Linked DNA regions of Homo sapiens: region 1 is linked to region 2. Evidence: fine-mapped expression QTL. A gene starts in region 2. The other region holds a variant in brackets. All regions are shown on one strand. Distances are from middle to middle.

Evidence for each region. PIP is the estimated chance that this variant, and not a neighbour inherited with it, causes the effect.
Region 1: its variant is fine-mapped to the expression of FAM178B in testis (GTEx, PIP 0.96).

What each region holds. Positions count from the first base shown.
Region 1 is chr2:96,927,770-96,936,099 of GRCh38, reverse strand. It overlaps FAM178B (family with sequence similarity 178 member B), which reads left to right. Exons shown (of 17, transcript NM_001122646.3): 9 at 6,780-6,894. Among named protein-coding and RNA genes, the nearest start is that of FAM178B, 55 kb to the left of the region's middle. The variant T/C (reference allele first, on the strand shown) is at 4,260.
Region 2 is chr2:96,981,475-96,989,804 of GRCh38, reverse strand. It overlaps FAM178B (family with sequence similarity 178 member B), which reads left to right and starts at 3,225. Exons shown (of 17, transcript NM_001122646.3): 1 at 3,225-3,564. The coding sequence starts at 3,492. RefSeq lists enhancers at 3,147-3,667, 3,668-4,188.

The sequences.
Region 1 (8,330 bases), 54 kb after region 2:
TAGTTTCTGTATACTCATTCTCCACTCCCACCCACCCACCAGTTTCCTCTATTATTTACATCATATGTTAGTGTGTATATTTGTTACAATATCAATACATTATTAACTGAAGTCCATAGCCTAAATTAGGGTTGTGTTGTGCAGTTCTATGGATTTTAACAAATGGCCAGGCGTGGTGGCTCACGCCTGTAATCTCAGCACTTTGCGGAGCCGAGGCACGTGGATCACCTGAGGTCAGGAGTTCGAGACCAGCCTGGACAACATGGTGAAACCCCCTGTCTACTAAAAAAGTACAAAAATTATCCAGGCGTGGTGGTGCATGCCTGTAGTCCCAGCCACTTGAGAGGCTGAGGCAGGAGAATTGCTTGAACTTGGGAGGCAGAGGTTGCAGCGAGCCGAGATCGTGCCACTGCACTCCAGCCTGGGTGACAGAGCAAGACTCCGTCTCCAAACAAAAATTAAAACCTGAAAATCCAAACTGGGAGAGAATCTGATAGATTATTCATTTAGGGACATTACTGGGAAACTCTTAGGTTGAGTCTAAACCAGTCTCAACCTTTTGCTTTCCAAACTTGGAAGGGTAGTTTGCTACTGCTACCTTCCTGAGTCGTGCTGAGGGAGCCCTGTATCCTTAAAAACAACCAAGAATGCATGCTTAGGTGGCCAAGTGAGAAGGCGATTGCCTGGAGCTGAGCCGTAATAGCTGGGCCTCTACCAGCCGTGCTGGACCGTGATGTGACCTGGAGCATGAGAGGCACATGCTAAGAACAGCAGAGCTGAGAGACGGGCTCCTGAGATCCTGCAGGTACAGTTGGGTCTCTGCACCGGCTGTGACCTGCCTACTTGCAGACTTCTTTTTTGTCAGAGAATAAAATTCTTTTTGAAGGCCGGGTGGGTTTTTTTCTTTTGTTTTTGTTTTTGTTTGTTTGTTTGTTTTAATTTTGTTCCATTTTGTTATTTGTAGCCAAACCTAATTCTAGCAGATATGAGTGGTTCTGTGGTTTGGCACAATGTCGCTCTGTCACGCATACCGGGGGCCTCGAGTGCTTGCTGGTATTAGGTGACACCAGGCAGTGGTGTGAGTTACAGAAGGGCAGGGGAAAGGAGAGGTGCCCTGGGGATGGCATCACCTGCCCTGTACACATTTCTGTGAATAAGCAGGCCAGGGGCCTATAGAGATGGTGTTGGCGGGTGCAGAGTTGGTTATAGCCAGGTAGGGAGGTTGTCAGGGGCACCACAGGAAAGGCCTTGGGCTCAGGGTGAGTGGGGAGAAAAAGGAAAGAAAGGCACCCTCAGAGCTGGCTGCAGGGTAGAGAAGAAACAAAAAGAAGGTTCCAAAAGAATGTGGGTGCAGATCTGGAAAAGAGCCGGTGAGAGAGAGACCAGGAACAGCAAGCGGTCAGCATTTCGCAGTGTCTCCCTAGACACACGGTTTTCTCAGGAGAGGCAGTGGCACTCTTTGGGAGAACGCCGGTCTGCCTGCATCCTGTGCTTACACTGTCATCGGGGCAACAAAATGTGCATGTTTTTAAAATAGGAAATGGATATGTCATAGTGTGGGGATACAGGATTTTTTTGTTGTTGTTGTTGAGGACCTGGCTCCCTTTGGTAATGACACTCCCTGTTTACAAGTCCAGTGGCTTCCCTTCATCCCTGGTCCTTGCCCCAGTCTTCCAGGCCAGCTGATCTGCTTCTCTCTCGCCCCCATCTGCCTCTCCATCCTCACCTCCAGCCCCTGGCCTTGCACCCACTCCAGCACCCTGGGCTCCTTGCTCAACCTAGAAGACAGCCGTGCTCCCTGGCCTCAGGTCTCTGCCAGGCTCCCCAAGTCACTCAGGGTGCTCCAGCGTCCCCTGACCACCCTTCCTCCCAGCCACGGATGCCACCCAGCATCATTGGGCTTTATGTATCTTTCATGTGTGCGTTGTGTGTCCCCCACCCAACACCAACAACCCGAGAGCAGGGCTGCTTTGTGTTTTGTTCACCACTGGGTCCCTGGCATTTAGAACAGCACCTGGTGTTTGCTTGCCATTTGCTGAGTGAATGCACGGTTGAAATGACTAAAGCTAAAGCTAATTGACTAAAGCTGGCAATATTGAAACAAGTTTAAATTTAAGTAGAAAAGTGCTGCGGGAAGATAAGTGATTAGATTTGGGAGGATATGAAAGAATTGGATTTTAAGCCTCCCGTAAACATTGTGAGCCCCGCACTCCAGTTAAGATCGGACTCAGTGGGATGGGTAGCTTGCTTTCCTTTAGGAACCAGCCTCCTGGCCCTCTTGCCCCCTTGCCCATTAAGGCTGATGGGGACCTCCCCTCCTCCTGTGGTATCTCGGATTCAGGGAACTAGAACTCAGGCAGATGGTGCTGCTTGGCCCTCCCAGTGCAGCCACCCAGCAGAGCTCATTAGCTGTTTGATTTGGGGGTTGGGGAGGATAAGAATGGAGCCTGCAGACCCAGTCTCCTGCCGCCAAAGCCCTAAGGCCCAGGCTGAGGACTCAGGGCACGAGGGAGGCCCAGAAGGGGGGCAGGAGCCAGGTCTTGGAGCTGAGGCTGGCGCTTCCAGTGACCGAAGAGGTTCTTGGGATGTGCATGGATTTCCAATTCCATGTAAGAGGTGCCAGGAGAACGGTAGTGAATTAACAGCTTCTTCCACGACACAGATGGAAAAGCCACTTTTATTTTAGGCCTGATGATTTTCTTCCTCTATCTTCCCCCCATACCCCCAAGTGTCAGTTCCATCCCAGAAGGGTAACCTAAAGGGACGCCTGCAGACTCACAGCCTCTTACACAGAGCCCAGAGTCTTTGGGCTGTTCATGCTGGCAAATTTTTTTAATTTTTTTTTTTATTTTTTTATGAAACGGAGTCTCGCTTTGTTGCCCAGGCTGGAGTGCAGTGGCGCGATCTCGGCTAACTGCAACCTCCACCTCCTGGGTTTAAGCAGTTCTCCTGCCTCAGCCTCCCAAGTAGCTGGGATTACAGGCGTGCACTACCACGCCCGGCTAATTTTTGTATTTTTAGTAGAGACCGGGTTTCACCGTGTTAGCCAGGATGGTCTTGATCTCCTGACCTTGTGATCTGCCCGCCTGAGCCTCCCAAAGTGCTGGGATTGCAGGCGTGAGCCACCACGCCCGGCTTTTTTTTTTTTTTTTTTTTTTGTGAGACGGAGTCTCACTCTGTTGTACAGGCTGGGGTGCAGTGGCACGATTTCAACTCACTGCAACCTTTGCCTCCTGGGTTCAAGCAATTCTCCTGCCTCAGCCTCCTAAGTAGCTGGGATTACAGGCATCCACCACCATGCCCGGCTAATTTTTTTGTATTTTTAGTAGAGACAGGGTTTCACCACATTGACCAGGCTGGTCTCGAACTCCTGACCTCAGGTGATCCACCCACCTCGGCCTCCCAAAGTGCTGGGATTACAGGCGTGAGCCACCATGCCCGGCCCATGCTGGCATTTTAAAAGACACAGTGTTCCGGTGCTCCCCTGGGCATCACCTAAAATGACTGTTCTGTGTCTGGAGGAACTGAGTTGGGGAGCTGGAGCCTGGCAGCCTGACATCTGAGTTTCCTCTGTGTCAGCTCTCCAGAAAGCCCTCATCGGGGACAAACAGAGCTCAGGAAAAGCTGAGTGCATGGCCCACTTCTAGGCAGTGTTAATTATGGGCTCCGGGGTGGTATTTTCCTGTCCTCAAGTCACCAGCCTCCACGGCTGCTGATAGGGACTTAACTGTCCCGAGGCCTCCCAGGCCCCTCCTCTGACACTGCTCCTGACACCTTGGCCTGGGTCGTGCTGTGCTGTGGAGCAGTTGCTGGGTAGGAGAGGGGAGAAGGGATGATGCCCAGCTGGAGGCTGGCAGAGTGGGCACTGCTGCCTGTGAGTCAGGAGGTTTCACAGCAGAAGATGCCTCTGTGTGGGCTGGGGTGGGGATCTCAAGGGGAGGCGGGCACAACCTCCTTGGGGTCTGAGGCTGCTGGCGGGAGGTTCCAACCCACCTGGGCCTCCCGGGGCCTCGCCCTAGGTTGATTGTCTTCCCCTCCCTGGAAAGTTCATCTGCCCGCCCACAGGTGCATGCACATACGTGCACAGTCCCCTGAAGGCCCTGGTGAACAGTTCTCTCTTTCCAGTGGAGTCTCATTGTGTTTTGCAGACTTCATTCTTCCCAGCTCGTTTGTGAGGCGAGTAAGGGGTATCATTACCACTCTTTACTTGTTAAGTTGCCCAAGAGAGGAAAAAAAAAAAAAACAAACAAACAAGAAAG[T/C]TTTTCCTCCTCCAAGAGTCTAATTACTTGTTTGGTGAGTCTCAACCCATATACATTTCCAAAGAGGGATACTCGATGCCTGCCGAAGAAATGTCCTTGGGCAGGTTTCAGAGACCCTCTGCCCGCCATCCTGCCGTCTGCCAGCACTGCAGCTGGGCAGGACTGTTGCCAGCACTTTTCAGTGAGCTTAGGAAACTGATTCTTACGGTGGTCCTTGCGGAAGTCCCCACCCCGCAGCAGCCCTCCCTGCTTTGTGCCTGTTCTGCCTCCAGTCTTGACATGCCATGCTGCTTTGTGCTGCCCTGCCTCCGTCTTTTCTGTCTCTGTGTCAGAAAAGAGACATTCCCATTCCACCTTCCACATTTCATATTCCTTGTCTTGTCCGCTCACCACCTCCAAGTAACACCTGCTCCTCTGAGAAGGCTCTGTACCTTTTACCTGCTTTGATTTTTGCATAAAGACATTCACTTGTATTTCTTGATCTGGCTTCTGTTCCTCCTAGACCATGAGCTCCTTGAGGTCAAGGTCTCCTCTAGCTTGCCTTTTTATCTTCCACACCTAGCTAGTTCCTGAACACAGTGGAGTGTGCTGAAGTGGGTCCTCAGGGTGGGACACTCACCCTCTAGAATGGTGAAGTCTCACGTATGTGCTTCTGATGTATCCCTAACCCAGCTTCCAGGTTCTTGAATCTGATGCCCCACCCATTGTCAAATTTAACATCTGCCTTCTGGATACTGCCAGCCCATCTTATGACTTGTTTTCAGTCTCCCTGTTTTGGTCCATTTGAGATGCTATGACAAAGTACCTTAGTCTGGGTAATTTATAAACTGGGAAATTTATTGCTTACAGTTCTGGAGGCTGGGAAGTCCAAGATCAAGGTACCAGCAAATTTGGTGTCTGGTGAGAGCTGCTCTCTGCCCCAAAGAGGAGGTCTTCTGGCCAATTCCTTATGTGGCAGAAGGGTAAAAGGGGCAACCAGCTCCCTCAGGCCTTCTTCCTTTATCAGGGCACTGATCCCATTTGTGAGAGCTCCATTCTCATGACCTAATTTTCCTCCCAAAGGCCCCACCTCTTGATGCTATCACACTTGGGATTAAATTTCAACATATGAGCTTTGGAGGCTATACATAAACACTCAGAACATAGCACCCTCTTAGCTGTGTAGTACTTGGTCAGATTTGTTTTGGATTCTCTCCATTCATTCATTCTAATTCTTCCATGCACCGGCCACGTTTTTAGGCATGGGGCCTGTAGAGATGACCAACACAGATGTGGCCCCTGCCCTCGTGGGACTCCTGTTCTACCGGGGAGAGACAGAAGGAGAAGCAAGTCAACTGCTAAGTCGGACAATGCTGAGGAATGAGAGCAGAGTGGAAACATAGGCTCTGTCCCTGGATGAGGTGTGGGAGCTCACGGTGCAGAGAACACATGGGGCAGGAGGTCTTGGGCAGCCATCCTTGGAGAAGACGTCTGGACCCATTCTTTTTTATCTTTCTACTCTCCCACTTATAAAAATGTCCTTAAGTAGTCTGACAGAAAAAAAGGCCCTGAGTACCTGAGTATGTAAGGTTCTCCCTGTTTGCTGACGTGGTCAGATTTTTTTTTTTTTTTTTTTTTTTTTTTTTTTTTTGGAGAGACGGAGTCTCGCTCTGTCACCCAGGCTGCTGGAGTGCTGGAGTGCAGTGGCTCTATGTCAGCTCATTACAACCTCCACCTCCCAAGTTCAAGCAATTATCCTGGGACTACAGGCTCATGCCGCCATGCTCGGCTACTTTCTTTTGTATTTTAGTAGAGATGAGGTTTCACCGTGTTGCCCAGGCTAGTCTCGAACTTCTTGAGCTCAGGCAATCTGCCTGCCTCAGTCTCTGAAAAGTGCTAGGATTACAGGTGTGGGCCACTGTGCCCGGCCGATGTGGTCAGACTTTATCATGAATGTTTGGTTAAATTGGGCAAGGGAAACTGGTCCCCATAGCGCACACTTGCTTAGGAGACACGCCCCAGGCTGTGGGAGGCAGGCGAGGTGTGCTCCCAGCAGGGATGGTGGACTAGGGATGCCCAAATGTTGCAGCAGCAAGAGTGCTGCAGAGGCTGCAGTGGGCTGAGTGTCAGCCTCGGTGCTTTGCAGCAAGAGAGTCTAAGGACGTGAGCCTGGTGTCCAGTGAGCCTTGTAGCTCGGGGCCTCTGGCACAGGACTCTTCGTGTCACTTGGCTGTGGGCAGCCGAGCACCCTGACTACTGCCTGATGTGGATGGCCAGATGGTCAGGGAGTGGTTGACCCAAGTGCAGCCATACCTTGAAGACCAGGTAAGAGAATATTCAAGAAAACATTGAAATTCACAAAGCCCCAGAAGTACTTGGAAACCACCAGTTGCTTCATTTCCCCAGATAACACCTGTGGTGTCAGAGAAGGCAAAAACTGGTTATCTTGGGCCAGGGGTCACGGCCAGCCCCTTCAGTGGGAGTGGTGCACCCTGCCCTCCGTTCCCCATTCTAACTCTCTGCTCCCTTTTGGCCTGACAGATGAAGACAAGCACCTGTGGTGCCCCTCACTGCAAGAAGTCAGGGAGGCATTCCACAGCCTGGGTGCCCACAGTCCTGCCCTGTACCCTCTGGGGCCCTTTTGGCACGGTGGCAGGTGAGTACTTCTGCTTCCTCACTGCCTTTTTCTTTCATATTTTTTAAGAGACAGGGTCTCTCTCTGTCACTCAGAACTGGAATACAGGGGTATAATCATAGCTCACTGCGGCCTCCACCTCCCAGGCTCAAGTGATCCTCCCACCTCAGCCTCCTGAGTAGCTGGGACTACAGGTACGCACCACCACGCCTGGCGAATTTTTTAATTTTTTGTAGAGGTGGCGGGGGGGGGTCTCCCTACGTTGTCCAGGCTAGTCTTGAACTCTTAGGCTCAAGCGATCCTTCTGCTTTGGCCTCCCAAAGTGCTGAGATTACAGGTATGAGCCACCCCATGCCCAGCCACCTGTTCTCTTGTTTGTTTGGAAGTTGCTGGACTCAGGCTGTATCCCATGTGTAGGGAATTACAGAACAACCACACACCCCCGCCTGAGGATCTGAGTATCACACCAGGAAGGAATTTCCTTGCTCCCAGCCTCAGGGAGATGGGAAGCCCCCAGGATGGATGAGCCTGTTTTTGGCACTTCCTGACTCAGCCCCCGCTGCCCCCACTCTCTGGTGAAACCCAGACTTCACAGCCTGGTTAGTATCCTTGCAGACACGTCCCAGTCCCTTGAGTCTCTTCAAGCCGCTTGTTTGGCCCGTTACCTAATATCCACTCAGGAACAGCAGGGCATGCTTTTATGTTCCCACAACCCTCAGTTTTGTGTCATGAGTGCCCCCGTTGAGCCCCGGGCTGACTTGCTCGTGGACAGTCATGATCATTTGCCTATGCCTGGTCCCTGCCTGTGGGGAGGAGTGCCACGTGATGCATAAATAGCTCTGGTGGGCGGATGGCGACTTAGCTTAAGGTCGTAAAAGTGTTATATATCGTCATCTTGTTCTACAAATTTTAGCACATCCAAACTCTCTTGAGAACCCTTGAAGAAGGTGATTTGAGATGGAACAGAGTGTTTTGAAGCCTGGAGGGGCTGTTGTATAGGACTTCCCCCCATGCTTCCCGCTGACAATCCGTCAGCGCCAGGAGGTGCCAGGCCCCCCTTCCCTCGCCTCGGCGGGCAGATGTTCCTCTGCATGGAAAGTGGGAGCTCTCCTAAGAACCTGTTCCACGACTGTGTTTAGCAATTGTCTGCCAAGCCAAACCACACTCAGCTCTGCTATAAATACCCCACACATGTGCCAGCCTGCCGTGCTCCTGCCCCTTTCCCTCCCGGAGCTCGCAGCTCCATGTCTGGTGTAATGAGCCACTTGCCTCCTCCTGGCACAGAGCTGCAATCGCACACCGTCTTGGATGAGCGGGGGAGAGAATTACACTCAGAAAGACAAATGAACGTCTGAGGCAGGCAGGGGCCGTGGAGTCCAGAAGAGCCACTTGTGACTGCTGTGATGAGTGTCCCTGTGTCCTCCTGGGAGTGGGAGGCGGCACTGGAGACATAGCCA
Region 2 (8,330 bases):
GGAGTAAGTGATCATTTACATGCTTCCTGGAGACCTCCATCCTCAGGAAAGCTAGAAAAAGCTACTTGTAAAGAAAACTCTGGCGAAGCTCTGGCAAGAGACTTCTGAGTCCTTATTAAAGTGATTGCCTCTAGCGTTCCTCCAAGTAAGAGCGGCTCCCAAGACCAATCTGCAACCCAGCACCTTTGAAATATTATATGGTCCTTTTGAGTCTTCACAGGGGTGCCTTGTAAAGGCATTAGAAAAATATACCAATGTAGATGCTGTCTCTGAGGCAGGTCAAATTCTTCTGGGGACTCATTTTATTAGTCAATCTGCTCCAGATATTAAGAGAAAGTTACAAAAACTGGCTGTAAGTCCCCAGGCACCAATGAATGAGCTAATTAATGTAGCCTTTGAAGTCTTCTATAATGAGACAGAGTAGAAGAGGCTAAAAAGTGAAAGAGGGAAGAGGCAAGAGACATAAACCAGGCCTCCGATTATTGGCCCTTGCTATCAGAGAGAACAAGCCAGTCCAGACCAAGCCCCAATCTGGGGACACCTGCTACACTTAAAACCAGGACACTGGCCCCAAAACTGCCAGACCAAGGGACAAAATGCCCAAAAGTCCGCTCCACCTAGACCATATCCACAATGCAGAGATGCCAGTCACCGGAAGCAGGACTGCCCCCAACTCCGTAGGGAGACAGGGGCTTCCAATTCCTTGATGGCCCTGACTAAAGACTGAGGAGACCCAAGGCTAACACTGGCTGTCATTCAGTCCCCATTACCACAGAGGAATCCAGTGACCCTGCACGTGGCAGGTGTAGCTAATTTTCTATTACATACAGGGACCAGCCTGTCAGTCCTTACATTCTGCCGTCGACCCTAGTAGGCCAAATAGGCCAAACACTGCACTGCCACGGGAATTGATGAAAAACCCGGACCAGATACTTTACCCAACCTTTTTACCTTTTTTTTTTTTTTTTTTTGAGATGGAATCTCACTCTGTTGCCCAGGCTGGAGTGCAGTGGCACCATCTCGGCTCACTGCAAGCTCCGCCTCCTGGGTTCATGCCATTCTCCTGCCTCAGCCTCCTGAGTAGCTGGGACTACAGGCGCCCACCACCACGCCCGGCTAATTTTTTGTATTTTTAGTAGAGACGGGGTTTCATCATGTTGGCCAGGATGGTCTTGATCTCCTGACCTCGTGATCCGCCTGCCTCGGCCTCCCAAAGTGCTGGGATTACAGGCGTGAGCCACCGTGCCCAGCCACCCAACCTTTAATTTGCAGACTCAAGGACGTGAATGCCTAACTCCCTTGTTGCTACCCTCGTTGGGGGCTTCTTTAAAACCAATGAAACCAACTGAACCCCTTCTCATAGGAGCACTCTCAAAAGCCCAGCTGACCACCATAACACACCATAGTCCAGAGAATCCAGGACATTGCCAGCTGGGTGCATCTCTCTAGGATAAAAACTGTTTCCCTTACGTTTCCACAGGACTCTACATCAACAACTAAAAATTAAAAATCCTTTTGTAAGCCTATAGAAGACCTAACATTCATTTTCAAGAAAAGATGCCAACACCCCAAATAAAGAGATTAATATTACTTTAACATAAGGTAGTCCCATCTCAGGTCTCCTATTTGTAGGAGCTCTTTTTGTTCTTCTGCTTGCTGAATAATGATGTGATGCTTCATTCTGCTACCTTTCATGGGACCTACAATAGCCATCTTATTACTACTGACCTTTGGTCCTTGCTTGTTTAAGCTCCTTTAAAGTCTGTGTCTTCTAGGTTACAACAATTCCTAGATTGATAGTTATGCAAGGATTTCAACTTATCCCAGTGGAGGATATGACCCCTATCACTTTAAATCAGGCAAGAAGAGACTTTCGGGCCCTGGTCCTGTCTCAGCACGAAGCAGCTCCAGAAAAAATGACCCAGCCCTCCACATTTCATAAGAACATGGACCCAAAGTCTCTGAGGGGGAAAATGAGGTCGGTTAGATACAGTGGTCATAGCCTCCTTTAAAGGGGAATGAACTTGCCAGATTGATGTAGAGAACAAACCGCCCACTGGTGCATAAACTGCATCAGGCTCCTAGTTAGAACATCCTGCAGCGAAGAGGATGAACAGCAGAAGGGAAAATCCCCAAATTCACACAAGTGCAGAAACCCATGATTAGAGTGTCCTTGGAATGACCTATGCTCATTTTAATGCTAAAAAACACACCCCTGGGTGAGGAATTAAAATGCTAATGAGACATGTGATGTGGTGTACTAGCACGCACATGCACATCTGGGAGACCCCGTAACATGCTTAACAGTAATGCCCATTCCCGCTCCTTTATGAATAATTATGTAAATCTCCCATAAAGGGAAGCTCATCACTGCCAAACAGACACAGCTATCTCACACGTGTGTGTGTGTGTGTGTGTGTGTTAGAGATGGGGGCTTGCTCTTTCGCCAGGCTGGAGTACAGTGCCACGATCTCGGCTCACTGCAACCTCTGCCTACGCCTCCCAGGCTCAAGTGATCCTCTCACCTCAGCCTCTGAAGTAGTTGGGGCTACAGGCACTGCACCACTATGCCCGGCTTTTTTTTTTTTTTTTTTTTTTTTTTTTTTTTTTTTTTTTTTTTTTTTTTGAGACGGCGTCTTGCTCTGCTGCCCAGGCTGGAGTGCGGTGGCGCGATCTCGGCTCATTGCAACCTCCACCTCCCTGGTTCAAGCAATTCCCCTGCCTCAGCCTCCCGCGCAACTGGGATTACAGGCGCACGCCAGCCACCAAGCCCGGTTAATGTTTTTTAATTTTTAGTAGAGACAGGGCTTCACCATGTTGGCCAGACTGGTCTGGAACTCCTGACCTCAGGCAATTCGCCCGCCTCGGCCTCCCAAAGTGCTGGGATTACAGGCGTGAGCCACCGCGCCCTGCCCACGCCAGGCTAATTTTTGTATTTTTAGTAGAGACGGGGTTTCGCCATGTCGCCCAGGCAGGTCTCTCACTCCTGGGCTCAAGCAATCGTCCCGTCTCAGCCTCCCAAAGTGCTGGGATTATAGGCATGAGACACCGCGCCAGGCCACTGTCTCACTGTCTTGGTAAATGCAAGCTACTACAAGTGCGCGTGACCCAGGACTGCCTGGGGGCAGGAGCTTCCGCCAGCCAATTCCCGCGCACGTGGATGCGCACGTGGAGGGCGAGCAGGAAGAGGGCGCGCACGTGGAGGGCTAACAGGAAGAGGGTGCGCACTTGGCCGGCGAGCTCCCCAGCTGGCGGCGGCGGCGGCTGTGAGCTGGCCGCTTGGTTTGGAGTCGGAACTCAATCCCCAGAACTGGATCTTTAGGTTCCACGTTGGCGGCCCTGGATCTAGGGACGCAACTCTTGGGGTCCTCCCACTGCGCCGCCTGGGGAGCCTGCTCCTGCTTCCTTTCCCGGCTAGCTGGCCCCGTCCTCTGAGGCCGTGCGAATTCCCGCCACCCTCCCTCACCCCGGAGCCCTGCCCTTCCCGCCCTATGTGGCCAAGGCTTCCAGGTGCGGGCCTCGCTCCACAACTCAGGAGGCAGGATCAGCGGCTCCATTTTACAGGTAAGGAAACTGAGGCCGAGGAACCGCAGGGGCGCGTGGTTAGCGCTCAGAGAGCACTCGACTTCCCTGGGACTCCTGGCTGGTCCAGGCCTTGCAGGTCAGCCCCGGTGCGGCCGCCGGGCTACTCTGGCGCTTTTCAGGTTCCTGCGACCCCGCGTGGTTCGGGTTCCGACGTGAGCCGGGCCCTCCTCTCCACAGGCCACTGCGCGGCCGGCCTTGGTGGGGTGGAACCTTAGATTGGTTTGAGAACTGGTTTATGTTTTGGTTGATGTGGCATGTTTTGTTTTGATTTTTAATGTTCCCCAGGGTGCAAAGGGTAGCTGGTGTTTTCTTTCCAGAAAGGCTTTCTATTCCCAGCCCCTGCCCGGTTTGATGGATGTGGAGTTTATGATGCTGGAGACCGTTTTCTTTGTGGGTAGAACGCATCTCCTTTCATCTTTCAAATTGTGAGCTCAGTCCTTGCTGACAGGAGCCGCTGCTCTCGCCAGCATTCCCAAGCTATTAAATATTTGTTTAAAAGGATGGATATAAAACATGATGTTAGGAATAAGGCGTCTTGAAAAAGCAGTATTCGCAGAAACAGCACCATTGTAATATTCTGAATTCATCTTGGCTCTTTTGACATCAGGGCCCAAAGCACTTGGGATTCCGTAATTATTTGGCCTCATGCTACACTTTAAGACAGATTATTTTATTTTTCTTGTAGTCAGGAAAGTAAAAGAACAAAAAAACTGAGATGACATGTTGAAATCTCACTGCGAGGACGCGAGGGAGGATGAGGGAAGCGGGGAGGGCGGCTGAACGCTAAAGGCTGGGGCTGGGGTTTGCAGGATTCGGGGAGACAAGAGCCCAGGCAGAGGGATGTGCTGGGCAGAGGGGGCGCCATCCATGGGCTGCATTGTAGAGTGAGCATGGCCAAGTCAAGGAGCTGAACAAGACGACTTCAGTCCTGAACCTGGAAAGAATGTGAGATGGAGGAGAAACAGGTCCTGGCTGGCGGGTATTGGGCCCCAGGAGGGAAAGAGATAACAAAGTTAAGTTTGGAGACTAACGCTGTCTCCTGTTTGACTGGGGGGCCTTCATATCCCCTCCCACGCTGTCAGGACACGTACTGTAGGCACTGGAGCAGGTCACACCAACTAGAATGATCGGTTTCCATCCATTCCGGGATGCATTTTTGTTCACATTTTAGCAGCTCTGAAGTTGGGCTGGGTCCCACAGTTTGTGTCTTTCTTTGTGTCATCGTTCACTTGGCAGCTTTTTGTCGGTCTTAGTGGCACAGAAAGTCACAGTGCCTTAAACCCAGCAGCATCTTAGCTGTGATGAAGGAGTCAGCCATGGCCTGAGTCCAGTAACTGCAGGATCCAGAGTTGGAGACGCAGGCAGAGAAGATGACCCACCTCAGCCTGCACCCTTTTGTTGTTTATGTCTTTGTCTTTGAAAGTGCTTGTTTCAAGGCATGTGAGGGAGGGGATTGGCAAAAGCAAAAACCTGGAAACAACAGATAGACAAATGAAAAATGTGTTACTTTGTGGTTGGGAGAGGGAAGAAACAGCTGGTAGCTGCATCTCCCTTCCAGGTAAAATTGGAATGCCATATAATCACTGGTAGATAGCACCTTTGAGTGAAAGGCATTTTGCAGCAGCTAGAGTCAGCTGCCCACTGAGCAGGCAGCCCTGGCCCAAGAGCCTCATAAGCAGCCAGCCAGTCTGAATACGCTGATTGGGCCAGTGAGCCCCAGGCTTCATCATCTGCTTGAGTCTTGGTGAGCCCTGGGTCTGTCCTATGACAGAAACTTCCTGCTGCTGTAAGCTCCTCTAGGGCAGAGACTGCATCTTCCTCATCCTTGAGGTCCCAATGCTCAGCATACTGCCTGACACATAGAAGATGCTAAATTGGGGTTTGTTGAGCGGGAACTGTATTGAACAGGTTGGGCAAATTGTCTTCCTGGTGGCGGAGTGAAAGTTTTTATGTACCACTTTGGCAGGGCACAGTGGCTCACACCCGTAATCCCAGCACTTTGGGAGGCTGAAGCGGCAGATCACAAGGTCAGGAGATCGAGACCAGCCTGGCCAACATGGTGAAACCCCATCACTACTAAAAATTAGCTGGGTGTGGTGGCACCTACCTGTAATCTCAGCTTCTCAGGAGGCTGAGGCAGGAGAATCGCTTGAACCCGGGAGGCGGAGGTTGCAGTGAACCGAGATTGTGCCATTACACTCCAGCCTGGGCAATAAGCGAAACTGTCTTGGAAAAAAAAATTCATAGCAGATTTATTCATAATACCTTGAAACAAGAAATAACTCAAATGCTCATCAACAGCGGAATGGATAAATAAGTAGTAGTTATTCATATGATGAAATATTGTATAGTAATAAAGATTACTGAACTGCTGCATGAACTACTGCTACAGGCATATAGCATGCAACAACATACATTTAGCAGTAGTTCGTGGATGATTTTCACATGCATAATGTTGAATAAAATATATGCAGAAGTGCACAAAATTGATGATTTGGCTGGATGCAGTGGCTCACGCCTGTAATCCCAGCGCTTTGTTAGCTGAGGTGACCAGATCACCTGAGCCTAGGAGTTTGAGACCAGCCTGGGCAACACAATGAAACTGTTTCTACAGAAAAATATAAAAATTAGCTGGGCATGGTGGCACATACCTGTAGTCCTAGCTACTCAGAAGGCTGAAGCAGGAGGATTGTTTGATCCCAGGAGGTTGAGGCTGCAGTGAGCTGTTATCACACCATCCGAGTCTGGGCAGCAGAGCGAGACTATGTCTCAAAAATATATATATATGATTTTATGTATGTGAAGTTCAAGAACAGGCAAAATAATCGGTGGTGATAGAGGCAGAGTAGTATAACCTTTGGGGTTATTGACTGGAGGAGGTACTTCTAGAATGTAAGAAATATTCAATATGTTGATCTGGTAATGGTTACCATATGTATGTATATGTGTATATATATGCACACACAGACACACATTTATACTAAATGTACACATATGTACATAAAAATCAATCATGCTGAACACTTAAGATTTGTGCATTTAGAGCCAGGCATGGTGGCTCATGGAATCCCAGCACTTTGGGAGGCTGAGGCAGGAGGATTGTTTGATCCCAGGAGTTCAAGGCTGACCTGGTCAAGGTAGCAAGAACCCTGTCTCTACAAAAATATTTTAAAATTAGCCAGGCATGGTGGTGTGTGCCTGCAGTCCTAGCTACTCGGGAGGCTGAGGCAGGCGGATTGCTTCGGCTCAAGAGCTGAAGGTGGCAGGAAGCTATGATGATGACAGTACACTCCAGTCTATGTGACAGAGAGAGACTATATCTCTAAAATAAAATAAATTAGACTGGGTGCAGTGGCTCACGCCTGTAATCCCAGCACTTTGGGAAGCCAAGGCAGGAGGATTGCTTGAGCCCAGGAGTTCAAGACCATCCTGGGCAACATAGCAAGAACCCTGTCTCTACAAAAAAAAAAAAAAAAAAAAAAAATTAGCTGGGCATGGTGGTGTGAACCTGCACTCCTAGCTACTCAGGAGGTTGAGGCAGGAGGGTTGCTTGGGCCCAGGAGTTCAAGGTTGCAGAGAGCTGTGATCATGACATTGCACTCCAGTCTACATGACAGAGACAGACTCTGTCTCTAACAAAAATAAATAAATAAATTAGGCCAGGTGCGGTGGCTCATGCCTGTAATCCCAGCACTGTGGGAGACTGAGGCGGGTGGATTGCTTGAGCTCAGGAGTTCGAGACCAGCCTGGGTAATATGGTGAAACTCCATCTCTACAAAAAATACAAAAATTAACCAGGCATGGTGGTGCACGCCTGTCGTCCCAGCTACTCGGGAAGCTGAGGTGGGAGGATGACTTGACGCTGGGAGGCAGAAGTTGCAGAGCCAAGATTGCACCGTTATACTCCAGCCTGGGTGACACAGCCAGACCCTGTCTCTAAAATAAAATAATAATATATATAAAGTATGTACATATACTATATGAATATATATATTTATGTACTGTAAGTTATACATCAATTAAAAAGTGAAGAATGTTTCTTGTGTGGGTTATGGATCCAAGTGTGAAATACAAAATAATAAAAATTCTCAAAGCTGGCATATGAAAATATGTTCATGACTTTGGAATAAACGAAGATTTTTTCTTTTTTTTTGAGACAGGGTCTTACTTTGTCACCCAGGCTGGAGTGCAGTAGTGCGATCACAGCTCACTGCAACCTTGACCTCCTGGACTCAGATGATCCTCCCACTCAGCCTCCCAAGTAGCTGGTACTGCAGGTGCACACCACCATGCCCAGCTAATTTTTGCGTTTTTTTGTAGAGACAGGGTTTCACTGTGTTGCCTGGGCTGGTCTCAAACTCTTGGACTCAAGCGATCTGCCTTTCTCAGCCTCCCAAAGTGCTGGGATTACAGGTGTGAGCCCCTGTGCCCAGCCTAGAGGACAGTTTCTTTCTTTCTTTTTTTTTTTTTTTTTTTTTTGAGACGGAGTCTCACTCTGTCACCCAGGCTATAGTGCAGTGGCGCCATCTCGGCTCACTGCAAGCTCCGCCTCCCAGGTTCACGCCATTCTCCTGCCTCAGCCTCCCGAGTAGCTGGGACTACAGGCATCCACCACCACGCCTGGCTGATTTTTAGTAGAGATGGGGTTTCACGTGTTGGCCAGGGTGACCTCGATCTCCTCACCTCGTGATCTGCCTGCCTTGGCCTCCCAAAGAGGACAGTTTCTTAAACAGGATACAGAAAGC